4 linked regions of the Homo sapiens genome follow. Each later gene encodes a partner of the first gene's protein in a complex. Each region holds a gene or a part of one and is shown in the gene's direction. Other genes may lie near its edges.

The links.
Region 2: NUP205 (region 1) and NUP160 share a complex: the UniProt entries of both Homo sapiens proteins name them as parts of the nuclear pore complex.
Region 3: NUP205 (region 1) and NUP98 share a complex: the UniProt entries of both Homo sapiens proteins name them as parts of the nuclear pore complex.
Region 4: NUP205 (region 1) and NUP153 share a complex: the UniProt entries of both Homo sapiens proteins name them as parts of the nuclear pore complex.

What each region holds. Positions count from the first base shown.
Region 1 is NC_000007.14:135,552,950-135,560,923, forward strand, and holds the start of NUP205 (nuclear pore complex protein Nup205), read left to right. Parts: upstream 1-4,967; 5' UTR 4,968-4,995; coding exon 4,996-5,023; intron 5,024-7,974. UniProt on the Homo sapiens protein: Plays a role in the nuclear pore complex (NPC) assembly and/or maintenance. May anchor NUP62 and other nucleoporins, but not NUP153 and TPR, to the NPC.
Region 2 is NC_000011.10:47,782,328-47,789,350, reverse strand, and holds part of NUP160 (nuclear pore complex protein Nup160), read left to right. Parts: intron 1-739; coding exon 740-850; intron 851-1,045; coding exon 1,046-1,169; intron 1,170-2,796; coding exon 2,797-2,898; intron 2,899-4,287; coding exon 4,288-4,429; intron 4,430-6,152; coding exon 6,153-6,278; intron 6,279-7,023. UniProt on the Homo sapiens protein: Functions as a component of the nuclear pore complex (NPC). Involved in poly(A)+ RNA transport.
Region 3 is NC_000011.10:3,794,549-3,801,655, reverse strand, and holds the start of NUP98 (nuclear pore complex protein Nup98-Nup96 isoform 1 precursor), read left to right. Parts: upstream 1-4,101; 5' UTR 4,102-4,256; intron 4,257-7,107. Other genes in the region: acyltransferase PGAP2, read right to left, coding at 3,674-3,676. UniProt on the Homo sapiens protein: Plays a role in the nuclear pore complex (NPC) assembly and/or maintenance. NUP98 and NUP96 are involved in the bidirectional transport across the NPC. May anchor NUP153 and TPR to the NPC.
Region 4 is NC_000006.12:17,633,914-17,640,936, reverse strand, and holds part of NUP153 (nuclear pore complex protein Nup153), read left to right. Parts: intron 1-872; coding exon 873-998; intron 999-3,166; coding exon 3,167-3,784; intron 3,785-7,023. UniProt on the Homo sapiens protein: Component of the nuclear pore complex (NPC), a complex required for the trafficking across the nuclear envelope. Functions as a scaffolding element in the nuclear phase of the NPC essential for normal nucleocytoplasmic transport of proteins and mRNAs.

The sequences.
Region 1 (7,974 bases):
TAGACAGGAAAAAACCAAGGTACTCAGGAGGGTTTCATAGCTAATAAGTAACTGAAACACAATTTGAATTCAGGAAGCCTTGCTCTAAGTCCTGTGCACTTCATCACAATTGTATGTGGTCTCTCCCAGTAGGCAGTGGAAGCACCAAGCTCTGCAAATTATTTTTCTGAATTGTAACTGCAAGCCAGAGATGTGGTAGGAGCATGGAATATAAATATAAAAACACACAGCTGTTGCTTTCTAGGAGTATATCAGTTATTTCTTGGGCATAACAAATCACAAAACGGTGACTTAAAACAATAGCCATTTACTTGCTCACAATTCTACAATCTGGTCTGGACTCACACATTTACAGTCAGTTGGTGGATCAACTAGTACTGAGGATCCAAAATAGCCTCACTAATGTTCAACATTTCAGCTAGGGTCTGGAATGGCTAAGGGTTGGCTAGGCCTCTCTCCTCATGGTCTTTCGTCCTCAAAAAGACAAGCTCGAGTTTCCTTACATGGGCAAAAGAGCAAAAAGGAAGTAACAAGGTCTCTTAAATCCTGGGCTTGGAAGTGCCCAACATCACTTCCTCTGCATTCTCCTGGTCCAAGCAAGTCAGAAGGCCAACCCAGATTCAATGTGGCAGATGATTACACAATGGCTTCAATTCAGGGACCTGTGATTCACTGAGGGCCTTTTAATAACAATCTACCACAAGAAGCTAACAGTTTTAGTGAGGAGACAATTGTCATAGCACATTGGGACGTAATAAAGATGGGAAAAAGTGCAATAGGTCTGCAGGCAAAGAAACACCCGAATTTGATGGGGCAGGGGATCAAGGACAGCATCATGAAGGCAGCATTAACACAGGCCCTGAGACTTGGAGAGCAGATCATGTTTGGAGGTTAACTTGGTGGGTGGTCACAGGTGAATAAGGAAGGGAAGGAAGGGCAGTCCAGGAGGACAGAATAGCAGGTGCAAAGACATTGATACATGGCAAAAGAAAGCATGTTGTATTTGGGGATAACAAATAGTTCAGAATGATTAGAGTAAAGGGCTCTTGAGGAAGAGTGTGGAAGGCTGAAGAACGAGGCTGAACCATATCAGGAAGTGTCATGAGTGCCTTGCTAAGAAGATTTTAAATGATACTCTTAGTAATAACTCTTAGTAATAGAAGATCATTGAGAAATTTTGATCAGAACAACCACATCATGTGTTTTTTTTTTTTTTTTTTTTTTTTTTTTTGAGACAGAATCTCACTCTGTCACCCAGGCTGGAGTGCAGTGGTGCGGTCTCGGCTCACTGCTATCTCCGCCTCCCTGGTTGACACCATTCTCCTGCCTCAGCCTCCTGAGTAGCTGGGACTACAGGTGCCCTCTACCATACCTGGCTAATTTTTTGTATTTTTAGTAGAGATGGGGTTTCACCGTGTTAGCCAGGATGGTCTCAATCTCCTGACCTCGTGATCTGCCCGCCTCGGCCTCCCAAAGTGCTGGGATTACAGGTGTGAGGCACTGCGCCTGGCCATATTTTTTTTTCCTTTTTTTTGAGACAGAGTTTCACTCTTCTTGCCCAGGGTGGAGTGCAATGGCGTGATCTTGGCTCACCGCAACCTCTGCCTCCCGGGTTCAAGCAATTCTCCTGCCTCAGCCTCCTGAGTAGCTGGCATTATAGGCATGTGCCACCACGCCCAGCTAATTTTGTATTTTTAGTAGAGACGGGGTTTCTCCATGTTGGTCAGGCTGGTCTCGAACTCCTGACCTCAGGTGATCTGCCTGTCTTGGCCTCCCAAAGTGCTAGGATTACAGGCGTGAGCCACCGTGTCCGGTCATGTTTTTTTGTATTTAAAAATCACTTTCAGGCTGGGCACAGTGACTCATGCCTGTAATTTCAGTGTTTTGGGAAGCCGAGGTTAAGAGTTCGAGACCAGCCTGGCTAACATGGCAAACCCCCGCCCCCCGCCATGTACTAAAAATACAAAAATTAGCCGGGTGTGGTGAAATGCCCCTGTAATCCCAGCTACTCAGGAGGCTGAGGCACAAGAATCGCTTGAACCCGGGAGGTGGAGGCTGCAGTGAGCCAAGATTGCACCACTGCACTCCAGCGACAGAGTGAAACTGTGTCTTGAAATAAATTAATAAAATAAAATAAAAAATAAAAATCACCTTAGGAGTCCATGAAAGGAAGATCAGATGGAAATAAGAAAGACAAATGAGAAGGCTATTGCAAAATACCAAGTTTAAGAAGATGAGACTTGAACAATGGCATAGAAAGCAGAGAAGAGGAAAAGGGTTCCAGAAATATTTGTGAGGTAGAATGAACAGGATTTGACAATTGAAGGAAGAATACAGAAAGAATCCCAGGTTTCCGATTTTGGCAACTGGGTGGGGATACAGGTGGCAGAGTTTTAGGGGAAAAGTGATCATTTACGTTTCAGACATGTTGGTTTTGAAACGCCTGTGTGGCAATCAATACAGATATGAAGTAGAGAGTTGGTTCTACAAATATGAAGCTCAAGAGAGAGGACTGGACTAGAGATACAAACACAGAATTCATCAGCAAGCAGGTGGTAGTAAGAAACCATAAGATGTCCCACAGAAAGCATGTAGAATGAAAAGGACAGAAACTAGAGATGACTATAGGGGAAGAGCTAGATTTAGTGGGTAGAAGAGGAAGAGAAGTCCACGTAAAACACTAAAAAAGAACTGGAAAGAGGAGGAAAACCAGTATCATTGGTGCCCCAGTAGCCACAGGATAATATAATTTTGTTTCTTTCTTTTTCTTTTCTTTTTCTTTTTTTTTTTTTGAGGCAGAGTTTTTACTCTGTTACCCAGGCTGGAGTGCAATGGTGCGATCTCGGCTCACTGCAACCTCTGCCTCTGGGGTTCAAGCGATTCTCCTGCCTTAGTCTCCCAAGTAGCTGGGATTACAGGAGTCCTGTCACCACGCCCAGCTAATTTTGTATTTTTAGTAGAGACAAGGTTTCACCATGTTGGCCAGGCTGGTCTCGAACTCTTGACCTCAGGTGATTCTCCCACCTCAGCGTCCCATAGTGCTAGGATTACCGGCGTGCGCCACTGCACCCGGCCTATAACTATCATAATTCAGAAAAGTGCCCATGGAATTTGATGACTGATAACTGGTAAACATACCAAGCGCAGTTTTAGAGGGGCTTATGATGGCAATATCCCAATTGCTACGAATTGAAGAAGCCTGTGAGAGAATGCTTGTAAAGTGTAATGACAGGTGAAGAGGAGTTGCTGGAATTTAAAGAGTTACTTTATAGAAAGCAAAGTTATCTACTGAGAGGGAAGCGTGTGGGCTTAAAAAGTGCATGTGGAGAGGGAAAGGCTTGTAATAGCTGTGCTGAGAGAGAAATCTTTGAATGCCGCTTCCTGTCAAGTTCCTGCTCAGTATTCTTCTCAGTTTCATGATAAACTTCTTGAAAAATTCCTTTGCGTTTACTTTCTCTCTTCCCCACTTCACTCCTTAAAACCACTTTAATCGTAGTTTGGCATTTGTCTCTATATATCAATGACTTTTAGAAAAAATCACCAGTGATTTTTGTGTTTCAAACCTAATGTACATTGTGTCACTTGATATTATTTGTTCAAAAGAATAAATGTTCTGTTCTGGATATTCTTTTTTTTTTTAAATGGAGTCTCACTCACTCTGTTGCCTAGGCTGGAGTGCAGTGGTATGATCTCAGCTCACTGCAACCTCCACCTCCCGGGTTCAAGGGATTCTCCTGCCTCAGCCTTCCGAACAGCTGGGGTTACAGGTGCGTGCCGCCATGCCTGGCTAATTTTTGTATTTTTAGTAGAGACGGGGTTTCACCTTCCTGGCCAGGCTGGTCTCAAACACTTGACCTTAAGTGATCGCCTGCCTTGGCCTCCCAAAGTGCTGGGATTACAGGCATAAGCCACTGCGCCCTGCCAGTTCTGGATATTCTTAACATACTCTATGCTTTTGTCTAAATTATTTGATTCTGATTTCCAACAGTGAAATGGGAATGATGGAGAGTTAATACAATGAGATTGTAAGGCACATGGAGCGTCTCTGACATAAATAGTTATAATCATATCATTTTCCCAATAGAATGGTTTGCAGGGATTAAATGAGATAATGGCTATAAAATTTTTCTTAATACATAGCTGTAAATAGCAATGATTATTTACATTTTAGTTTGAAAATCAGCAAACTAAAATTTAACAGCTGAAGAAAGAGTTCAGCTACTTTGGGTGCTCAGGTAGAAAAATACTTGGTGATTATGAAACGATATGTCTGGAATCTGTTTCAAACTAATCGGGGGCGGGGGGTGGGGAGGGGAGGGTGTTGGGGTGGTAAGGGTGGGTTGGGGCTGCCGTGGTGGGAAATTGGCCACGTTATTGATGCTGAGTGTTTGCTATTCTAATTTTGTATCCGTTTGAAAATTTTATAATTAAAAATTATGATTTGTTTCGCTCTACGCAACTATGTTGACAGAATATATTTGGTAAACTGAAATGTCACGGAAACTTAGTTTGTAACCGGTCAGTGGCTTTTTGAGGTGTAGACACTTCATACCTTACTTCACTCCCCACTGTAAGGAAGATTTAACTTGAAGCGGAGATAATGATTTGAATTTACGGCTTTTATAATGTCATAAATGGGCGTCATTTTAATAACTACTCTCAGAATATCTTTTTCTATTCCACTTTACTTTTTCCTCTCCACTTAACCAACTCATCATTAGAAACTACAAGTCCCAGGATGCACTACACGATGAACGTCGGATCGAGGACCTCGTGTCTCTGAAGTGGTTGCCCTCGCCTTATTTGAATGGGAATAATCCCAATGAAAATTGATGTTTGTGACCCAGAGCAGATTCTGGAGCCTTTTGTACGCCTGGGACGGCCCAGCGTGGAGGGGACAGTGTGGTGCCTTTTTGTTCAGGCTTCGCTCAGGTCAGCCTCACCCTTTCCCGGGGCCTCCATGCGGCAGAAGGGCTCTGTTAGTGCGCCTCTAAGATGGCGACGCCTTTGGCGGTAAATTCGGGTAAGTGTGGCCAGACAGAAAGACGATTGAGCTGAGCGATAACCAGGTCTTCATGGAGAGACGAGACCGTGAGGTTTCTCGGAGTCTAGGACCCCACTTATGTGCGGTGCCTGCTTTTCCCTAATTCTGGGCCTAGAGTCCCACCCCTCCCCAGTTTGAATGGCGCGCGTCGGTGCTGCGGCTCCAGCCCTCGAGTTGGGGTTTGAGATTCCAGGCAGTGAGGCTTGGGCCGCTGGACCCAGGTGTGTAATCTCTCACAGCCCAGGGCTGAGTCTGGTCCCCCTCACCCCCAAGTTTCACTGTGCGTCTGTGGTCCCGATTTCGCTGGAATACGCATCAGGTCTTCCACAGTGAAGCCAGAGGACCCGAGATATTTTCCAGCCATGAGCAGAGGCTGAAAGTAGGCGTCGGAGTTCCTTATAGGGTGGGAGATCTTGCAGGCAGCGAATACTCCCTATTATGAAGTCGGCCATCTGAAAGGTGGTCAGGAAGAGGGTGGCGGGGCTTCAGCAGACGTCTTCTAACCCTGCGGATGTGGTTAGGCCCTGGATGTTCTTGTACCTTTGGAGCTGTAGATTTTCGGGGTGGAATTGAATCTAGAAGGTAGTAAAGGAACTCTGGAAGATTTGGGGTGGATCCTCTTTCGGTGATTCTCAATTCGGGCCGTACCGCCCTCCAGTGGTGTTTGAATGAGTGAGTGCATTTTGATTGTCATATTTCCTGGGGTACACTGCTGTCGCATAGTAGGCGGGGCAAGGATGCAGAAAGTCCTTCATGGTCAGAGCAGTCCGGAAAAATAATTTGGTGCCTAGAATGTTAATGCCTCGATTGAGATGCTCTGAAGTTCGCGGGCAAGATTAAGAGTATATCTGTGTGGTAAATGCTTGTGAGAATCTCACTTAAAAGGACTCTTTTTTAAAGTATTGGTTCTATTTTCCACAGGACTGATATTCTTGAAAAGTTGTCTAAATCTGTTTTGTAAATCAAATCATTTCAGAAAAGCTATGATAAATTATAATGAAGGCTATGTTTACTGAACACATACTATATCCCAGCATTGCACTTATTATCGTGCTTATCTCATTCAGTTCCCGTTTATACACCTTTGGAGTAGTTACTGTTACATACTCCGTTTTACAGATTTGGAAATAGAGGCTTCAAATAGTTACGTAATGTCCCCAGAGTTAAACATCTAATGATCTAAGTCAGTCTTAGGTGCTTAAACTACTTAGTGCTACTGCTTAAGCACAACCTAATTCATTTTATGATATTAGACGTATATATTAGAAGGTTAGTAATGAAGTTACATGCTTAATATTGCGGTCCTTCCTTCCCAATTAGATATGCTTAACGTGTGGTTGTATATAATACATTTCTCTATTTTATTTTATTTTTTAATTTTTCTTTTTGAGATGGAGTCTTGCTCTGTCTCCCAGGCGGGAGTGCAGTGATGCGATCCGCGATCCTGGCTCGCTGCAACCTCTGCCTCCCAGGTTGAAGCAATTCTCCTGCCTCAGCCTCCTGAGTAGCTGGGATTACAGGCATGTGCCACCACGCTGGGCTAATTTTTGTATTTTTAGTAGAGGTGGGGTTTCTCCATGTTGGCTAGGCTGATCTCGAACTGCTGTCCTCAAGCGATCTTTCTGCCTCGGCCTCCCAAAGTGGTAGGTTTACAGGTGTGAGCCAGTACGCAAGGTATACACATTTATTTTCCTTTTTTTTTTTTTTCTTTTTTTGAGATGGAGTCTCATCCTGTCCACCCAGGCTGGAGTGCAGTGGCGTGATCTCGGCTCACTGCAGCCTCCACCTCCTGGGTTGGAGCAACTCTCCTGCCTCAGCCTCTGAAGTAACTGGGATTACAGGCGCCCGCCACCATGCTTGGCTAGCCTGGCTAATTTTTTTTTGAGATGGAGTCTCACTCTGTTGCCCGGGCTGGAGTGCAGTGGCACGATCTTGGCTCACTGCAACGTCCGCCTCCTGGGTTCAAGCGATTCCCCTGCCTCAGCCTCCCGAGGGGCTGGGATTACAGGCGCCCGCCACTACACCCAGCTAATTTTTTGTATTTGTAGTAGAGAAGGGGTTTCACCATATTGGCCAGGCTGGTCTCGAGCTCCTGACCCCGTGATTCACTCCCTTCAGCCTCCCAAAGTGCTGGGATTACAGGTGTGAGCCACTGCGCCTGGCCAATTTTTTTTGTATTTTTAGTAGAGACGGGGTTTCACCATGTTGGCCAGACTGGTCTCAAACTCCTGACCTCAGGTGATCCGCCTACCTCGGCATCCCAAAGTGCTGGGATTACAGGCGTGAGCCACTGTGCCTGGCCTATATACATTCCTTTAGTACATACTCGCCCTAAGCTATTATAATTATTAAACAAATCATTGGAGGGAAAAGGAGTTGCCAACAGCAGCAAAGAGTGTACATTGTATAATAAAGCCTTGTGTCAGGAGTGTTTAATTGGCAACATAGGAAACATTTTTAAAAGCCAAGAGTCAGGAGCTGGTTTTTTAAAAAACTAAACGTCTTAGGGAAGGAACTCTTTTTCCATCAAGGAATGAATGTTGGGTTGAGTGGGTAAAGGAAATGTGTCATATACATGCAATATGCATAATACATATACATGCATATACATAACATAACGTATACATGCATATATATAGTATCCTTATGCAGCCTTAAAAAGGAAGGAAATCCTGTCACATAAAACAACGTGGATGAAACTTGAGGACATACTAAGTGAAATAAGCCAGTCACAAGACACAAATACTACATGATTCCACTTATATGAGGTATCTGAAGTAGTCATACTCATAGAAACAGAAAGTAGAATGGTGGTTGCCAGGGGCTGGGAAAGGGGAAAGTGGGGAGTTGTTTAGGGGGCATAGAGTTTCTGTTTTGCAAGATGAAAAAAGCTGTGAAGATCTGTTGCACAATGTGAATACACTGAACAC
Region 2 (7,023 bases), on another chromosome or scaffold:
TAGAGATGACAGACAGTATTTCACAATTATAATAGTTAAATGAGGCCAGGTGCAGTGGCTCATGCCTTGTAATCCCAGCATTTTGGGAGGCCAAGGCAGGAGGGTCATTTGAGCTCAGGAGTTCAAGACCAGCCTGGGCAACATAGCAAGACCCTGTAGAAAAAAAATTTTTTAGGCTGGGCACAGTGGCTGATGCCTGTAATCCCAGCACGTTGGGAGGCTGAGGTGGCTGGATCACCTGAGGTCAGGAGTTTAAGAACAGCCTGGCCAACATGGTAAAACCCCGTGTCTACTAAAAATACAAAAATTAGCTGGGCATGGTGGTGCACGCCTGTAATCCCAGCTACTCGGAAGGCTGAGGCAGGAGAATCACATGAACCCAAGAGGCGGAGGTTGCAGTGAGCCGAGATCATGCCACTGCACTCCAGCCTGGGTGACAGATTGAGATTTGTTTCCTTAAAAAAAAAAAAAAAAGTTTAAAGAGTTAAATGAAATTACATGTAGTACCTTGTAAGCACCTCCTCAACTGCAGTCGGTTAAAATACTTTGATTTGACATGGGATATTGCATAATTTGTTTAAGTTAGCATTTATTTAGTGCCCTATTTTCTCCTTCCTTCATGCATTTGGAAATTAGATTGAATGTTACTTAATGTTCAGTGGAAATTGACAGGTTGCGTTAATCTGATGGATACTTCTTTGTATTTTGGGAGTTCAAAATATTTTTCTTTGATGTATAGCAAATCGACAAATTGAAATCCTGGAACTGGAAGATCTGGAGAAAGAGTGTTCCTTGGCTCGCATCCGCCTCACTTTGGCTCAGCATGATCCATCAGCGGTTGCAGTTGCTGGTAGGAATTCAAGAGTTTAAAGCCTCTGACTTGTCAGCACCACGAGCACATTTTAGGTCCAGGCAGTGTATGTAGCATGGTAGATGGGTATAAAGCCTGGGTTATTACTCAGAGATACTCATCAACAAAACAAAATCTTTGGTTTCATTTGTGTATACCTTGGCTACACGAAATAATCTTTTTCCATTTTCACAGGAAGTTCATCAGCAGAGGAAATGGTCACTCTCTTGGTTCAGGCGGGCCTCTTTGACACTGCCATATCACTCTGTCAGACTTTTAAGCTTCCCTTAACGCCAGTCTTTGAAGGGCTTGCCTTCAAGTATGTATAAAATTATTTTTTTATAGTCTTTTCTAATGCAAATATATTATCCTCTTGCTCAGTGTGAAACAGTCGTCATAAGCCAAGTAGCCCATATATCATTTATGATTTGAAGAAGTGTTTTGTTTAATCCATCCAAGCATTCTTAAAAAGAATTTCAGGCTGAGCGCAGTGGCTCACGCCTGTAATCCCAGCACTTTGGGAGGCCGAGGCGGGCGGATCACGAGGCCAGGAGATCAAGACCATCCTGGCTAACAAGGTGAAACCCCGTCTCTACTAAAAATAATACAAAAAAAATTAGTCGGGCGTGGTGGCGGGCGCCTGTAGTCCCAGCTACTCGGGAGGCTGAGGCAGGAGAATGGCGTGAACCTGGGAGGCAGAGCTTGCAATGAGCCGAGATCGCGCCACTGCACTCCAGCCTGGGCGACAGAGCGAGACTCTGTCTCAAAAAAAAGAAGAAGAATTTCTTGGCCAGGCACAGTGGCTCACATCTGTAATCCTACTAATACTTTGGGAGGCTGTGGCGGGTGGATCGCTTGGGACCAGCCTGGCCAACATGGTGAAACCCTGTCTCTACTAAAAATACAAAAATGAGGGTGTGGCACACAACAGTAATTTCAGCCTCTCAGGAGGCTTAGGCACAAGAATCTCTTGAACTTGGGAGGCAGAGGTTGCAGTGAGCTGAGATCGCGCCTCTGCACTCGAGCCTGGGCAACAAAGCAAGACTCTGTTTCAAAAAAAAAAAAAAAAAAAGTTTGTGAATTAGAAATAATTTTGAACTTTCAGAATTTTTCAGCCAGGTGCAGTGGCTTACGCCTGTAATGCCATCACGTTGGGAGGCCAAGGTGGGCAGATCACTTGAGGTCAGGAGTTCAAGACCTGCCCGGCCAACATGACGAAACCCCATCTCTACTAAAAATACAAAAGTTAGCCAGGAGAGGTGGCGTGTGCCTGTAATCCCAGCTACTTGGGTGGCTAAGGCAGGAGAATCGCTTGAGCCTGGGAGACGGAGGTTACAATGAGTTGAGATTGCGCCACTGCACTCCAGCCTGGGCAACAGAGCGAGACTCCATCTTAATTTAAAAAAAAAAAGAGGCCAGGTGCGGTGGCTCATACCTGTTATCCCAGGACTTTGGGAGACCTAGGCGGGCGGATCATGAGGTCAGGAGATCAAGACCATCCTGGCTAACACAGTGAAACCCCGTCTCTACTAAATATACAAAAAATTAGCCAGGCATGGTGGCATGGGCCTGTAGTCCCAGCTACTCAGGAGGCTGAGACAGGAGAATCACTTGAACCTGGGAGGCAGAGGTTGCAGTGAGCTGAGATTGCACCACTGCACTGCAGCCTGGGTGACAGAGCAAGACTCCATCTCAAAAAAAAAGAAAAGAAAAAAGAATTTTTCATCATTAATTTTATCTTGGAAGTAAATTGTCTCTTAATGCTTACTCATGTTCTTGTAGGTATCCAGTTGTGTAACTTGAGGAAGAGATGAGCCAATATTCCAGTAGTGAATTCAGCAAAAGACTAGAGATGAAGTTGTCATCTATCTCTCTAGTTTTAGTATCAAATTAAAGTGGTACGTTTCAGCGTTCAGTTTTCAAGTGTGGAACCATTTTCATTCCAGATGCATCAAATTGCAATTTGGAGGAGAGGCAGCACAAGCAGAAGCCTGGGCCTGGCTAGCAGCCAATCAGCTCTCATCTGTCATCACTACTAAGGAGTCTAGGTACAACCCTGGTGTTCAACCCTGGGTAGTTTTGCCTTTCTAAAAGCTGTAACTGTCTTTCTCTGACTAAATTGTCCTACATAGATCATTTCACTTTTTTCTTTCTTTTTGGCTAAGTTTTTATAGGGGCTGGAAAGTTTATAATTAAGGTGACATCATGTCATTTATTGTCCAAACTAGGATGTCTTTGCCTATGAAATGTCTCCTTCTCCATATCCCCCTCCTCAAAGACTTACTGTTTCATATCAGGAAAGGGTACTCTTACAGGCAAAAATCTGTATTTACTTGTTTCGGAGTGTTATCCTCCTTTTTTCCCCCATTTCTTCCACTGAGCAGTCACTGCATGGTTTCATCACAGTGTCCTCTTATATCTTGTCTCCAGCTGCTGTTCAGCAGTCTGTCACCCATCAGCCCCCATCATCCACTATACCTTCTTCAGATCTCCTCTGGTTCGTATACTTCCCCAGTGCACCCACTTTGTGTCCACGTAAATATACTTCAGCTTCTTCAGAAACCTTCTCTAACATTCCTAACCCTCAGTAAACTTCCCTTTCTGAACTGCATTTGCACTTGGTATTATACAGCTTAGCACTTTAGAGTGATAGCACTTTAGAATTTGGAAGTTCTCTGACATTAGTTTTCAACCCCTAAATTAGCACATCAGAATAACTTATTAAAATACAGATTATGAGAAATCACCCTAGTCTTCTAAGTTAGAACTTCTGCATGATTCTAATGCTTGATCAGGTTTGAGAACCAGTGTTCTGAACCAGTTTCTTGTTTTAGAAATGCAGAAACAAAGGAGTTAAATGAATTATGCATTAATAGCCAAACAAATAACGTTCATTTACTAAATATGTTTGTTTACTAAATACTAAATACGTTAGTGGGAGAGGAATATACGAACCCAAGACATCTAGTTTCTAGTGCTATCCCCATAAGTCACATTAGCCCAAATAATATTTGTTCCCATTTAGCTATATTATTGATTCAGTTGTTAATTTCTAAAGTTTTCCTTGTAAGGCTGGGCATGGTGACTCCTGCCTGTAATCCCAACACTTAGGGAGGACAAGGTCAGAGGATCACTTTAGCTCTGGAGTTTAATACCAGCGTGGACAACATAGCAAGTCCTTGTCTCTACAAAACATAAACAAAATTAGCTGGGCATAGTGGTGCATGCCTGTATTCCCAGCTATTTAGGAAGCTGAAATGGGAGAATCTGGGGCTGAGGCTGCAGTGAGCTGAGATCACACCACTCCACTCTAGCCTGGGTGACAGAGCAAGACCCTGTCTGAAAAAAAAGTTTTCCTTGTAAATACATGCTTTGAATGGTACTCTAAATAGCTATTAAGAATCTGAAACTCATTAGTCATTTTTGTTTTTTTCAAGTGCTACAGATGAAGCATGGCGACTATTATCCACTTACCTGGAGAGGTACAAAGTCCAGAATAACTTGTATCACCACTGTGTAATCAACAAGCTCTTGTCTCATGGAGTGCCTCTGCCTAATTGGCTTATAAACAGTTACAAGGTAAACGGATTATAACTTGTACAGAGTAAGAACCCACTCTTTATCATTCTGGATAACTTCATGAGATGATTAAAAATATGGACTGATTGCAGTGGCTCATACCTGTCATGCCCGCACATTGGTAGGCCAACAGGGGAGGATGGCTTGAGCCCAGGAGTTTGAGACCAGCTTGGGCAACACAGGGAGACCCCATCTCTATTTAAATTTAAAAATATATAAAGAAAAAGAAAAAGATGGGGTGATAACTTATGGGAACATATTGACTTACGTACTTTGGGAAGCTTTTCATCATAGCTAAAACCATAAGAACAATTCAAATTCATTTCCACAGTACTACTGTGTATTTAGATTTGAAGTTTCATAGGTTAGTAATTAGGTTAATGACTCCTATTATATTCACTGAACAATGAGTTTATATTTAGAACAATGAGCATATGCATGACACAGGATTTACTCTTCATACCTCAAAAAAGTCACAGGAGTCGGTGGAGTACTTTTCAAATAATATAACACTATGGCTGGTCTGAGTGCCGTGTTGTTTACAACTAATTGAGCACAACCAGTTTCCGATTGGTTCCTTCTCCACTCCCACTGTTTCACCTATTAAAAATCAAAAACGGGTTCTTAGACTGTCTGCATCAGAATTATTCAGATGGCAGTCTTCTTCAAAATACAGATTCCTCATCCTAGACTTACAGAATCAGATTATCTCAGGCTAGGAGCCAGAAATCTACATTTTAAGAAGCTCCTAATTTGATTTTGATGCATGCTAAAGTTTGAGAACTTCTGCATCTGAACCACCGTTAGTAGGATAAGGAAAGAGAAAATCTAAAGCTTAAAATCAGGAAAGTTTTTTTTGGTTTTTTTTGTTTTGTTTTGTTTTGTTTTTTTTGTTTTTGTTTTTGTTTTTTTTTTAAGGTAGAAAGGAGGCCGGGCACGGTGACTCACGCCTGTAAACCCAGCGCTTTGGGAGGCCAAGGCAGGCAGATCACCTGAGGTCAGGAATTCGAGACCAGCCTGGCCAACATGGTGAAACCCCATCTCCACTAAAAATACAAAAATTATCTGGATGTGATGGTGCGTGCCTGTAATCTCAGCTACTCTGGAGGCAGAGGTTACAGTGATCTGAGGTTGCACCACTGCCCCCAAGCCTGGGCGACAGAGCAAGACTCTGTCTCAAAAAAAATAAATAAATAGGAAAGTAGGGAAGCCAGCTAAGATGGTAAAGGTAAGATTGTGATCAAATGGGAATATAGAAAGCATGCTTAATTAATAGAGCTCTTCCAAATAGAGACTTCAGATTTAAAGCTGGTGATTCTTTGAACTTCTTTTGCATTTGTCATTCATATATTTCTTATTATGTGAATATATTGTCACTTTAGTGTTCAGGAAAAGTTTGTTGACTTTACAACTGTGGAAACTGAAGTGGAGAGAAGTTAAAATATGTCTTAGGTCATAAAACAGGGGAAGAAGGCTATTTAACAGATAAGGGCCTCCCAAACTGCCTAGAGGTAACGGCTCTTAGGGATTTAACTTTTTTTTTTTCCTAACTCCCCAGATTTGTTATCAGCTCTTATCCTAAGATACAGATGAGTAAACCAAGCCACTGGTTTAATTATATTGAGAAATACAAATGTTAGGGAATCAGCCACTCAACATTCTTTGGTCAGTACTCAAGTAGGAGGGAAATAGGTACATATTCTTAATCACTGACTTTTCACAGAAGGTTGATGCTGCTGAATTGCTTCGTTTATACTTAAACTATGACCTTTTAGAAGAAGCTGTGGATTTGGTGTCAGAATATGTGGATGCTGTATTGGGAAAAGGACATCAATACTTCGGAATTGAGGTAGGCATATACAAATGGTCCCCAATTTACAATGGTTTGACTTACGATTTTTCAACTTTACAGTGGTTTGAAAGTGATGAACATTTATGAGAAACCATACTTTAAAATACTGATGGCCGGGCACAGTGACTCATGCCTATAATCCCAGCACTTTGGGAGGCCGAGGCAGACAGATCACCTGAGGTCAGGAGTTCGAAACCAGTTTGGCCAACATGGCAAAGCCCCGTCTCTACTAAAAATACAGAAATTAGCCAGATGCAGTGGCACGTACCTGTAATCCCAGCTACTCAGGAGGCTGAGGCAGGAGAATCGCTTGAACCTGGGAGGCAGAGGTTGCAGTGAGCCGAGATCATGCCACTGCACTCCAGCCTGGGCAACAGAGCGAGACTCCATCTCAAAAATAAATAAATAAATAAATAATAAATAAATAAAATACTCATACAACCGTTCAGTTTTTCAGTTGCAGTACAGTATTCAATAAATTACACAAGATATTCAACAGTGTATTATAAAGTAGGCTTTCTGTTAGATGATTTTGCCCAACTTTATAGGTTAACGTTAAGTGTCCTGAGCATGGTTAAGTAGGCTAGGCTAAGCCGTGATGTTCATTAGGTTAGATGTATTATATGTATTTTCAACCTATGATATTTTCAACTGATAGTGGGTTTATTGGAAAACAAACCCACCATAAGTTGAGGAACATCGGTATAGGCGCATATATATATATATATATATATATATATAT
Region 3 (7,107 bases), on another chromosome or scaffold:
TTTTTTTTTTTTTTGAGATGGAGTCTTGCTCTGTCACCCAGGCTGGAGTGCAGTGGCGCGATCTCTGCTCACTGCAAGCTCCGCCTCCTGGGTTCACACCATTCTCCTGCCTCAGCCTCCCGAATAGCTGGGACTACAGGCGCCTGCCACCGCGCCCGGCTAATTTTTTGTATTTTTAGTACAGACGGGGTTTCACCATGTTAGCCAGGATGGTCTCGATCTCCTGACCTTGTGATCCGCCCGCCTCGGCCTCCCAAAGTGCTGGGATTACAGGCTTGAGCCACCATGCCCGGCTGGGATACATTTTTAAATAATGCAAACAATACCATTTATTGAGGCCTTATCTGTGCCAGGTACTATGCTAAGTGCTTTAAATGTATTCTCTCTTTTAATGCTCACTACGACCCTGTAAGGCAAATGTGGTTGTTATCCCCATTTTATACAAAAGAAAATTGAGGTTCAGAGGGATTAGGAAATTTGCCCAAATTTCTTTTTCTTTCCTTTCTTTTCTTTTTTTTTTGAAGACAGACTTTCACTCTTGTTGCCCACGCTGGAGTGCAATGGTGCCATCTCAGCTCACTGCAACCTCTGCCTCCCCGGTTCAAGCAATTCTCCTGCCTCAGCCTCCCAAGTAGCTGGGATTACAGGCATGAGCCACCACACCCGGCTAATTTTTTGTATATTTAGTAGAGACAGGGTTTCACCATGTTGGCCAGGCGGGTTTCGAACTCCTGACCTCAGGTGATCCACCTGCTTCAGCCTCCAAAAGTGCTGGGATTATAGGCGTGAGCCACCATTCCCGGCAGGAAATTTGCCTAAATTTCTTTTTTTTTTTTTTTTTTTTGAGACGGAGTCTCACTCTGTGGCCCAGGATCGAGTGCAGTGGCTCGATCTCAGCTCACTGCAACCTCCGCCTCCCAGGTTCAAGCAATTCTCCTGCCTCAGCCTCCCAAGTAGCTGGGACTACAGGTATGTGCCACCACGCCCGGCTAATTTTTTTGTATTTTCAGTAGAGATGGGGTTTCCTTCTGTTAGCCAGGCTGGTCTCGATCTCCTGACCTCGTGATCCGCCCACCTCGGCCTCCCAAAGTGCTGGGATTACAGGCGTGAGCCATCCCGCCTGGCCCAAATTTCTTAATTAAATTAAACTGAATTAAATTAAATTAATAAATAAATTTAAACTGAATTAAATTAAATCTGCATCCAAATTTAAACCAGGGTTCTCTGACTCAAAGTCCAACACCTCTACTAATCCCCCACTGAAGAAAATAATTCACTCATTCGTGCATCAAATATCTAATGTGTACCTACTATGTGCCCTGCCTTAGGGACACCAAAATAAGTCAGTAGAAGAGAGCCTTAAAAATAATTGGGCTTGGAGATTAAAGGGCAAGAAATCAAATGTTCCAGAGGGCAGTTATGAAGCTACTGTAACTATCTAGGGAGAGTTAATGACTTTCTAAAGTCCAGCAAAGGCAAGGGAGTGTGGTTGTAAAGTAGGGGTGTTTTGGATGGAGGAGTTGGGGGAAGATGGCTGCAGTCAGTTGTTTAAAGTAACTTTACTATTTGGCCAACCATATATTGATTTTCTTCTTCCTTCAAGTATCTACTGAGCACCTACAATGTACCGTGTTTCTTCCATCCACTATCTTATTCCATCTTTACAACCCACCACCTTTTTTTTCCCCCAGTCGGAGGCTCCGTCTGTTGCCCAGGCGGGAGTGGCATGACTGTAATCACAGCTCACTGTAGCTTTAACCTCTTGGGCTCAAACGATCCTCCTACTTCAGCCTCCCTAGTAGCTGGGACCACAGGCGCTTGCCACCACACCTGGCCTTGGTTAATTTTTTGTATAGGTGGGGACTCACTATGTTGCCCGAGCTGGTCTCGAACTCCTGGGTTCAAGTGATCCTCCTACCTTGAACTCCCCAGTGCTGGGATTACAGGCGTGAGCCACCACTCCCAGTCTCCCATTTTTTAAACAAACAAATAAATCAATTATCTCTAATCCCTTGCCATCACCGAAAACCCAGATGGCTTTAAACTCATTTACATTTTAGGTAAAAGCCCAGTTCAATTTTGCATTCATGTCTCACAAAGGAGTAGTGGTGGAGGTTTTTTAAAAATTTTTTTTGAGATCACTCTGGAGCGCAGTGGCAGGATCTCCACTCACTGTAATCTCCGCCTCCCTGGTTCAAGCCATTCTCGTGCCTCAGCAAACCGAGAAGCAGCTGGGATTATAGGTGCCCACCACCATGCTTGACCAATTTTTGTATTCTTAGTAGAGACAGGGTTTCATCATGTTGGCCAGGCTGGTCTCGAACTCCTGGCCTCAAATAATCTGCCCGCCTCAGCATCCCAAAGTGCTGGGATTACAGGCATGAGCCACCAGCCCGGCCAGTATACGCTTTGCTTTCTGCGCACAGTTCCTGCTATGAGACTCTCAGTCACTAAACAGGTCTAGTTTCTAGAAAATGCCCACCTTTCACTCTTGTAATATCAGTTTTCTGCTAATGGGCTAGGCCCCAGAAGGACTTCCAAGAAGAGCCCAAGGCACAGAAAACCGAGGGTAAATAATAGGATACAAAGTGACAAGGCTTTAACAGAGGCCTGCCCAAGCATTAGCTCAACTCGCTGTGAAAGCTTGGCAAATGTATCACTGAGAAGATGGGAACATTTGAAATACCCGTCCTTTAAGAATAAGTAGGGGTTCGGCTGGGCGCGGTGGCTCACGCCTGTAAGGCCAGCACTGTGGGAGGCCGAGGCGGGCGGATCACCTGAGTTCCGGAGTTCGAGACCAGCCTGGCCAACATGGTGAAACCCCATCTCTACTAAAAATACAAAATCAGCTGGGCGCGGCGGCGAGTGCCTGTAATCCCAGCTACTCGGGAGGCTACGACAGGAGACTCTCTTGTACCTGGGAGGCGGAGATTGCAGTGAGCCGAGATCGTGCCACTGCACTCCAGCCTGGGAGAAAGAGGAGACAGAGCAAGACTCCATCTCAAAAAAAAAAAAAAAAATTAGTTCATGGGCGAGGTGGCTCACGTCTGTAATCCCAGCACTTTGGGAGGCCGAGGCGGGTGGATCACTTGAGATCAGGAGTTCGAGACCAGCCTGACCAACACAGTGAAATCCCCGTCTCTACTATAAATACAAAAATTAGCTGGGCCTGGTGGCGGACGCCTGTAATCCCAGCTACTTGGGAGGCTAAGGCGGGAGAATCGCTTGAACCCGGGAGGCAGAGGTTGCAGTGAGCCGAGATTGCGCCAATGCACTCCACCCTAGGCGACAACGCGAGACTTCATCTCAAAAGAAAAAGAAAAAAAAAGAATTAGGGGTTCTCCACGTGCAGCTGGGAAAGACGTTCCAACAATCCTCATTTGTACCAGGCCCTTTGGTGGGCCAGTCCCTTAGGGCATCTCTAATGCTCCTAATGTCCATCCTAGAAATTCAGGGAGGGAAAGAAAGTGCTGGGGCGAGCATGGGTCAGGAGAGAATAGGGTCAGGATTTAGGGCCCTGAAGAAGCCTCGGGCAAACTCTTTGGACAGACAGACCTTCCAAGAGGGCCCTCAGGCTCCGCACGTGGTCTGGGCGGGAAGTGCGGGCAGAGAGACTAGGAAGCCTTCCCAGCAGCGCCGGCGGACCGGGGCAAGGAAAGGGTCGAATAGTTACCATGCCATTCTGGGGCCGTCCCTCTGATTGGCCCGAGCTCCCTCAGCCCGAGTCGCGGCGCTCCAAGGAAGGGGGCGGAGTCTCTATGTTGCGTCACCACCCTTCCCGACACCCCGCCGGTGCTTCCCAATCTAGCCATTCACAAGCCCACTTCGAGAGGCCCTGTGTGACGTCACGACACGCTCCCGCCAACCGCGGCGGCGAGGGGCGGGACTCCACGGCCCTCTCACCGCTCCTACCCTGTGCCTCCCCGAACTCCTTCTGCCCCTCCTCTTCCCTCTCGCCCCTTCCCCCTTCAGTTCGGTTTCAAAAGACGCGTTGCCCAATGAATAACAGGGTCGACCCAGAGTGGCGGCCGCGTCCACCAATTCGCGGACGGCGAGGGCGGAGCGTCCGCAACGAGCCTCTGACGCCGGGCGGCGTGTGACGCAGTCGGGCCCTCTGCGCGCTGCGCCCGAAGCGGCGGTCGGTGGCAGGGGTGGTAGCGGCGGCGGCGACGGTTTCGTGGGGGCCGCGCGCTGCTCTGTGAGCGGCGGGTGGCAGCAGGGGACTCCTGACACTTCCCCTTCCCCACCGAACCGCGGTAAGTCGGGAGCCCGAGCTGCAGCGGCCGAGACCGGCAGGTTTCTCCCCCCTTCCGGGCGGGCGGACGCGCGGGGCGTCTCAGGGCCTCTCCGCTTCGAAGTCTAGCGCCGCTGCGCGCACCTTCTGGCCTGAGAGAGGGGCGGTGCTGAGGACCCGGGGGCCCGGAGCCCGGGAGGCCCGGCTTTGGAGGCCCTGGGAGAGAATGGACATCAGTGGGGTCTAGGCCTGGAGGTCTCCAGTTGCTGCCCACGCGAGTGGGTGTCTGTCTGGTTGTACTCATTCATTCAGTGGTGTAAGGACCCCACGGTGGGCTGGCCTTTCCGGGGTCAGCGCCTTGAAACCCTGAATACGGTCTGCCCCGCACTTCCTTGACCGTCATGTGGGACTGGGCTTTATTTGCCTTGGCTTCTCCATAAGGGAAGTGGGCACCCCGAGGATTAGGGTGAGTCCGAAGTTTGGGAGATTTTTAAGATAATATCTGAGAATAGGAGTCGGTTCGGTGGAGCAAAAGGTTCTTTTCTATTTTCCCACGTGTTCAGTGTAAAGCCAGATGAGGAGACAGATTGAGTTTCTGGATTACTATAGCCATAAGGACTTTAGAAATTGTTTAAGTCAATCCCCCTACCTTACATCAGTTTTGTAGATGGGGAAACCGAGGCCCGGAGTAACAGGCAGGATTAGCCAATGCCAGATTTTTGACAGTCTAAACAGTTTTCTACTACCTCACCCTCCCTGGATATTTCAGTCTCCCATTATTAAGAATTCCCTTTAGGAGGTCGGTGCGGCATGGACATTAGGTAGCTAAACGTAGATGTAGTCTTCACAGCGTTTTCCGTTTAGTTGCTACCAGCTCTGTTCACGGGTAAGGTGGAAGCTTCGTTAGTGGTACCCTAACCTAGAGCTTGAGAACTAAACTTAGAAGATGGTTAAAGAACGTCAGCGTTGTTATGTATCGGAAACAAATCGGTAAAACTACAAGCCATTGTTTCCCTTTCTAAATCTGAATTTTTTGACTTGTGTCAGCTGATGAGGACTCGGAGTCAGTTAGGGATTTATAACAGTACTGGAATAGAAAGCAGGAAATATTGATAAGACTTAGAAAGCCAGGTAGGAGTCCGTTTGTAGTAGTTGTACCTCGGAACTCATGGCTCCTTTCAGGTACAGAATTCAAAGTGAAGTATTATAGTAGAATAAGGTGAGGAAATAAAACTCCGTTTTGGAGGAAGAAGCTAACTGGAATAAAGAGCAAAAAGAGAGCAGTGATCATTCCCTGTGACGGTCTTACAAATTCGAAAAGAAACTCGAGTTAACTGGGTTACAGTATGTTTACCTGGTGGAGGAAGTTAGGGTATTTAAAAACCAAAACTAGAGGTTGGACAGGATAAAGGTACTGGGAAATACTTGGGTAAAATTATTCTTTTTGACTCTTCAGATTTGATGAAATTGAATTAGTTGACACTTGGTTCTGTACACATCAGTAAGATTGTTACTTTGTTCTTGTATAGATGACAAAGCATAAACTCAGAACTAGTAGTGCAGAAGAGAACCGTAGTCTAAATAGTAAAGCGTGAACAGGGTATGTTTTCCGTGACATTTTCTCAGTTCAGGCATCACCCTCTTCTGGGAAGCTTTTCTTGGCATTCTCTTCTCTGCAAGCTTCCATAACACTTATTTGATATTTCTATTTATAGCACATATCATTTTTATTTTAGCTGTTTTTTTAATTAGGCTGGTAAAATATTTTCATCTTATCTTTGTTGTCCAGTTGCTTGCCACATAGTAGGCCCTCAGTAAGTGTGTTTACTTGAATGAATAGACAAATATGGAGGAGTTATACCTAACAGTAGTCAATAGAGAGGCTCCTGAAATATGGGGCCCAGATAAGATAGTTCCTGCTGTTTATATGTTATGTGATACTTTGGTCCCTGACATTTATTTGTTTATTTATTTATGAGATAGGGTCTCACTCCATCACCCAGGCTAGAGTGCAGTGGCGCAATCTCGGTTCACAGTAGCCTCTACCTCCTGGGCTCAAGCAATCTTCCCACCTCAGCCTCCCAAGTAGCTGAGACCACAGGTGTGCACCACCATACCCAGCTAATATTTTTTTGTATATTTTGGGTAGAGACAGGGTTTCGCTATGTTGCCCAGGCTGGTATCGAATTCCTGGGCTCAAGCCATCCCCCACCTCGGCCTCCCAAAGTGCTGGGATTACAGGTATGAGCCACTGTGCCCAGCCAGTACCTGACTTTATGTCTACTAGGTCCTAGATAACTAAGAGCAAGTAGAATTTTTAAGGAACTAAATTTACGGCTTTGAAAAAATTATATTATTTTCTTGTAATATGATTTATGTGGTGGTAGTTAACCTGGAAAGTAAAGAATGATGGTACTAATGTTTAATTTCCAATAATGAGACTATGCAGTTATGTAATTTGTTGAAAGGTTAGGGAACTAAGAAACTCAGAGATTTAAGGATAAGTATTGGCTGAGCATGGTGACTGACTACTGTAATCCCAGCACTTCAAAGGTCAAGGCAGGTGGATTTCCTGAGCCCAGAAGTTCAAGACTAGCCTGGGCAACATGGGGAAACCCTGTCTCTACGAAAAATACAAAAATTAGGCAGGTATGGTGGCATGCACCTGTACTCCAGCTACTTAGGAGGCTGAAATCAAAGAAACATCAGAGCCTGGAAGATTGAGACTGCAGTGCTGTGATTGCACCACTGCTTTCCAGCCTGGGAAACTGCGTGAGGCCCTGTCTTAAAACAAAGGCGTGGTGTGGTGGTTCACGCCTGTAATCCTAGCACTTTGGGAGGCCGAGGCGGGTGGATTGCCTGAGCTCAGGAGT
Region 4 (7,023 bases), on another chromosome or scaffold:
GAATGATTTTTGTGGGCCAGGCATGATGACTCATGCCAGTAATGCCAGTGCTTTGGGAGGCCGATGTGGGAGGATCACCTGAGGCCAGGAGTTTAAGACCAGTCTGGCCAGCCATAGTGAGACCCCATGTCTACAAAAAAGTAAAAAAAAAAATGAGCTAGATGTGGTGGCATGCGCCTGTGTTCCTGGCTACTTGAGAGGCTAAGGTGGGAGGATTGCTTAAGCCCAGGAGTTTGAGGATGCATTAAGCTATGATTGCACCACTGTACTCCGGCCTTGCTGACAACAAGACACTCACTCTCTGTTTTGAAAAAGAATGATTTCTGTGGCTGCATAAGTATTTCATCATGTCACTGTTATGTAATTTATGTAACCATATACCCTTATTTAATATTTTACCATATAGGTTTTCAATATTATAACTGAAGGATATTTTCAATTATATTAATAGTGTGAATTTCTAAAAATGAAATAATTGCTCAGTTGAAAATTACTTTTTTTGATTAGTTTTGTAAATTGTTGTGTAATCAGATATTTCATGCAGTGGATGGGCTTGCCCTAGTTGCCATATCCTCTCCAGTTTTTTAGTTTGATTGTTTTGATTATCAGTCAGTTAATTGGACGATAATTATAGTTTATATTTTTTTGCCTTTTTATTGGTGGGGGAAGTTATATAGTATGGGAATAGTGTTTTTATCTCCTTGTAATGGCAAATTATCCCTGTAAAGTCATTTGTTTATTGAATTAAAGTGACTTTTTTCATGAACTTTTAGAAATTAATCCAAAAGATGGTTTTGAAAGATTTTTAAAAATGCATTTGAGAGTCCAGTGTTTTATTTGGCATAATGTTATTAAATTTAAAAAAATTACAGCTCATCATGTCACTACAGTGAACAGTACAAATTGTAAGAAGACACCACCTGAAGATTGTGAGGGTCCTTTTAGACCTGCAGAAATCCTGAAAGAAGGAAGTGTTCTAGATATTCTGAAAAGCCCTGGTAAGATAATTAAAAGATAAGCCTTTTGATTACAAACTCATGATCTCAATTTAATGTCATTTTGTATTATACTTTAGGCTTTTAAAAATTTCTGACTAGTTTGGTAGGAGATTTACTTTTGAATAGAGATGTAGTTAGGTGTAATTCTTTTGCTGGAAATATCTTACAAGCCAAAGGACTCTATACTAAAATGAAATTTCTAATAGGCAAGTGTAGGAGGAGGAAATGGATTCTCCATTAATAGAGGTAGGTCAGTGAGGAATAAGAGTAAGTAAACCTGATGATACACATAGACATGTCTTTCTCTTATGAGAGCACTGAACTGCCTTCTTGAATTATTCCCCAGTTTGGTAAATATGGAACAAGGCCAAGTGGAAAGCATCTGCTGAATTGTAACATATACATAGGGAGCAGTACTCACTTGAATTGAAGCAAGATTTGAAAGCTAGTAGGTAATAATTAGAAAGGGGATAAATAGTTCTCAGATAAGAATAATTTTTTGTTTGAAAACAGGATGTTCATAATTCCATTTATGATACATAGTATAAGAATGTAAAACTTGCCAGGCGCGGTGGCTCACCCTTGTAATCCCAGCACTTTGGGAGGCCAAGACGGGCAGATCACTTGAGGCCAGGAGTTGAAGACCAGCCTGGCCAACATGGCGAAACCCCATCTCTATTAAAAAGAGAAAAAATTAGCTGGGCGTCCTGGCATGCACCTGTAGTTCCAGCTACTCGGGAGGCTGAGGCAGGAGAATTGCTTGAACCTGGGAGGTGGAGGTTGCAGTGAACCGAGATCGAACCACTGCACTCCAGCCTGGGCGACAGAGCAAGACTCTGTCTTTAAAAAAAAAAGAAAGGAAAAGAAAAAAAGAATAAAAGAATGTAAAACTGTGAGATAATCTAATAGCTCAGAAAGAATTTAAACGTACCCACCAGATGTGTCCATGTGTAATAAGATAGGTTTTCTTAAAAAATAAGGTTGGCTTTTACAACAGGATTTAGGAGGATTCAATTTTTCTGGTCCAGCTCTCTCATTTTATAGATAAGTATACTGCCTACAGGAGTCCAGTAGCTTGGACAGTTCCATGCAGTTATGGTAGAACTCCAGAGTGCTTGTGCTGGAATTAACCAAGTAGTAGGCAAGCCTCAAATGTGTATAGTCTGTCTTGTGTATCTGGGGTTACACTTTGCATTCATGATGCCAACCTCCCCCTGCTCCCTTTTTACTTCTTAAATAGGAAATGTTTGGGGAGAATCTTCATTTGACTGAAATTAGGAAAATCTGAAAAAGTAGAAGAAAAAGAAATCTGTAATGCCTTGAGATGGTTACTGTTAATATCTTGCCAATCTTAGTGATTTAAATTAATCATAAGCAAAATAACACGTTGCCCACTGGGAATAACTCAAGCATGTGGTATTTTGTCCTTAAGCTAAAAATAGCTCTAGGCTGGATTATTTTGTGGAACTAGAAAACCTCTAATAACCTTCTACATCTTCTCTCCTTTTAATTTCTTTTTCTTTGGCGGGTAAGGCTGGAGAAACAGATCACAGATGGTGGTGTTGTGTGTAAGACAAAAGTTAACTGGTCCTAAGTAAACAATTACAAAAGTCATTCTCATGAGTAAAATACAGCTTGAGTGAATGAACTCAATGACAGCAGTTTTGGTAACAGAAGGACTTGCTCAGCTGATTTTACTGAAGGTAGAGAATACCACAGCAGTAGGTTATGACTGGACAAAATTCAAAGATGACATTGAAGCCATTTGGTGTAGCCAATGGAACACTTAAAAGAAGAAATGGATGAAGGAGAAAGAGGACTGCGAGTATTGTGTGTTTGTAGAGAGACAGAATATAGCAAAATGTGGATGGCAATAATACATATCAGTAAATTAGTACCATTGAAAGCATCAAACTAGAAATTCCTTGAAGGAGAAGGTGATATCCTGTAAACAAAACATCTTTTGTAGAATTTTAAATGGTTTAAGTGTAACTTATTAGGTAATTGATAAATATGATTACTTAAGTGAAAAACAATTCTTAAGTAGTTCATCTTGGATTGTAGTAAGTGTGCAGTGAGGTAAACGTCTTCTCAGTAATAATAATCAAATTAATGCTTTGATTTATAAAGCTTCTCTAACGTTGCACTCTCTCCTTCGTTCATTGTAGGTTTCGCATCGCCGAAGATAGATTCTGTTGCTGCTCAGCCCACCGCAACAAGCCCAGTAGTTTATACAAGACCAGCAATAAGTAGCTTTTCTTCTAGTGGAATTGGGTTTGGGGAGAGTTTAAAAGCTGGGTCATCATGGCAGTGTGATACATGTCTACTCCAGAACAAAGTTACAGACAACAAATGCATAGCCTGTCAAGCAGCAAAATTGTCACCCAGAGATACTGCTAAACAGACTGGAATTGAAACACCAAATAAAAGTGGCAAAACAACTCTTTCTGCATCAGGGACAGGCTTTGGAGACAAATTTAAACCAGTGATAGGCACTTGGGATTGTGATACCTGTTTAGTGCAAAATAAACCTGAAGCAATAAAATGTGTAGCCTGTGAAACACCGAAACCTGGAACTTGTGTGAAGCGAGCCCTTACATTGACAGTGGTTTCGGAAAGTGCTGAGACTATGACTGCTTCATCTTCCAGCTGCACTGTAACCACTGGTACCTTAGGATTTGGAGATAAATTCAAAAGGCCCATTGGATCTTGGGAGTGTTCAGTATGCTGTGTTTCTAATAATGCAGAAGACAATAAGTGTGTGTCCTGTATGTCTGAGAAACCAGGTATGTTTTTGGCTTTATGGAGTAATTTTGCTTATTACTTCTGTTGAACAGTTTAATTTATTCTAAGAATCCTTGTTTTAGATGTTTCAGGATGAGCATTTCTCATACATATTAATTTTTCTAAACTATCTTGAGGTAAAAATGTCTTGTTTGCAGCTAGATCTTTATGTTCAGTTAGGATAGGTTATGTGTTAACTAGTCTGGTATATATGACGACCTCCTCTTTTTGTACAGTTTTATCAGAAATTTCTTGTTCAAAGTTGACTAATACAGATTCTGAAAGATCTTAGAATGGGGTAATATTTCTCAAACCTTTGTACAGAGTAAAATATTACTTCTCCAAATAGAAATCAGGATAGCTAGTGGTCATTTACAGGGAAGGTTTCTTTAGGGGGTAGACTATAGTCGTTAATGAAAAGGCTGTAGCTGTTGCAATGATTGTAAATTACCAAATCACTAATTCTAATCTAGGCAGCCAGAAACATGGAGTTAGTTTTGAGTTTTTTCTGTTTCTCTGTTCAAAGTTGGAAGAATTAGTGAAGATTCATATTGAATCTTTAACTCATCCAGAAGTGGATGATGGTTTTGTAATATTATATAATTATATGGTACAGATGTATGATAACATGGATATCCTGGGAATTACACTGTTTTCAATGCATTATTCATGAATATGCAGTTTTGTGTCTGTAATGTACAGCTCTGAGTTACTAACCTAGACCTTTTGCCTGAGCCCTCATGCCATATTTCTGATTCCTACTGGATATTTCCCTATGAGTAAGATTTTAGAATCTTCATTCCTTTTTTTTTTTTTTTTTGAGACAGAGTCTCACTGTGTCACCCAGGCTGGAGTGCAGTGGCACAATCTTGGCTCACTGAGACCTCCATCTCCCAGATGCATGCAATTCTTGTGCCTCAGCCTCTCAAGTAGCTGGAATTACAGGTGCATGCCACCACACCCAACTAATTTTTTGTATTTTTAGTAGAGACAGGGTTTCGCCATGTTGGCCAGGCTGGTCTTGGACTCCTGACATCAAGTGATCTATCCGCCTTGGCCTTCCAAAGTGCTGGGATTACAGGCGTGAGCCACCATGCCCGGCCTAGAATCTTCATTATGAAATATTTTTGTCTTCCCATCTGGTTCCCCTGCTCACCTACAAAAAGAAAGCCCTTGATGTATGCAGGAAAGCAAAATTAATTTTAAGTTGAAGGGGAATAACAAAACTTTGAGTCAGGAAGTAATTTGTTACACATGAACAAAGGAAGCTCACATATGTATTAAAGAACTTGGATGTCCTCCTTTCAATGATGAACCATCATTTTCAGCAGAGGAGTGATACAGTCAAGTTTGTATTTTTGATGAGTCACTGGCTTTTTAGATAATGGATTTGAAAACAAAAAAATTTGGAGACCGGAAGATAGATTAGGAAGTGGTATCAATCATATAGGCAATAGGCCAGACACTGTGGCTCACGCCTGTAATCCCAGCACTGGGAGAAGCCAAGGCGGGTATATTGCTTGAACCCAGTTTAAGACCAGCCCGAGCAGCATGGTGAAGCACTGTCTCTACAAAAAACACAAAAATTAGCCTGGCTTGGTGGCACCCGCCTATAGTCCCAGCTACTTAGGAGGCCAAAGTGGGAGGATTGCTTGAGCTCGGGAGGTAGAGGTTGCAGTTACCTGAGATCATGCTACTGCGCTTCAGCCTGGGTGACAGAGTGAGACCCTGTCTCAAATAATGATAGGCCGGGTGCGGTGGCTTACACCTGTAATCCCAGCACTTTGGGAGGCCGAGGCGAGTGGATCACCAGGTCAGGAGATTGAGACCATCCTGGCTAACACAGTGAACCCCTGTCTCTACTAACAATACAAAAAATTAGCCGGGTGTGGTGGCGGGTGCCTGTAGTCCCAGCTACTCGGGAGGCTGAGGCAGGAGAATGGTGTGAATCTGGGAGGTGGAGCTTGCAGTGAGCCGAGATCATGCCACTGCACTCCAGCCTGGGCGACAGAGCGAGACTCCGTCTCAAAAAAAAAAAAAAAAAAAAAAAGATAAGCCAAGCTGTGCAACCTGTGGGCTGCATGTGGCTTAGGATGGCTATGAATGAGGCTCAACACAGATTTGTGAATTTTCTAAAACATTATGAGATTCTTTTGCGATTTATTTTTTTTTTTTATTTTTTAATTTGTTTTAAAGCTCATCAGCTGTTGCTAGTGTTAGTATATTTTACTTGTGGTCCAAGACAATTCTTTTTGTCCAGTGTGGACTAGGGAAGCCAAAAGATTGGACCACCCCCGCCTCCCCTGCTGATACAGGCAATAGATAATGTACTGATCGAACTGAATAAGGAATGGAGGACATAAAATTAAAGACGTTGATTTCAAGCTGCTGAAGTCAACATTCAGATGTATGTAATGTGACCAGGCATGGTGGCTCACGTCTGTAATCCCAGCACTTCGTGAGGCTGAGGCAGGCAGATCACCTGAGGTCAGGAGTTTGAGACCAGCCTGGCCAACATGGCAAAGCCCTGTCTCTACTAAAAATACAAAAATTAGCTGGGCGTGGTCGTGGATGCCCGTAATCCCAGCTACTTGGGAGGCAGAGGCAGGAGAATAGCTTGAACCTGGGAGGTGGAGGTTGCTGTGAGCTGAGATTGTGCCACTCTACTCCACCCTGGGCAACAGAGTGAGACTCTGTCTCAAAAAAAAAAAAATGTATGTAAGGCCTTTGGATACACCCTTTGGGTGGAGATACGGATTTGGGGTCATTAATCCATAGTTTTGATATTTGAAGTCATGAGAGTAGAGTTGAGTGTGTTCACTCAAGATGGCCTGAAATGAAAGTCCGCTAACTTACAGGGAGTGGCAGGAATAAAGCTTTTGAACAGTTAATCTTTTAAAAAGGTGCAACCAGAAAGGAAAAACAAAAACTACATGGCACTGGTTGCTTCAGAGGAAGATGGATTTCAAAGGAACAGGATCAGAGGTCTCAATAAAAAAGCTGTTACTCAAGCAAGAGATGGGTTAGTGGTGGGAGTAATGGGGGGGGTTCATGAACCAGAATAGCAGTAGAAGAGTCAGAAATTGATTGAAATAGATTTGAGAAAAATGTAGAGGAGGAGGAGTATCCAGCCAAGCTAACCAAGTAAGACAGTGGAGTCACCAACTAAGAGACTACAGTGACAAGCTCAGAAGTGTAGATTGCAGGTGTAGATTAGGAAACTGTTTTTTGGGGATTTAAA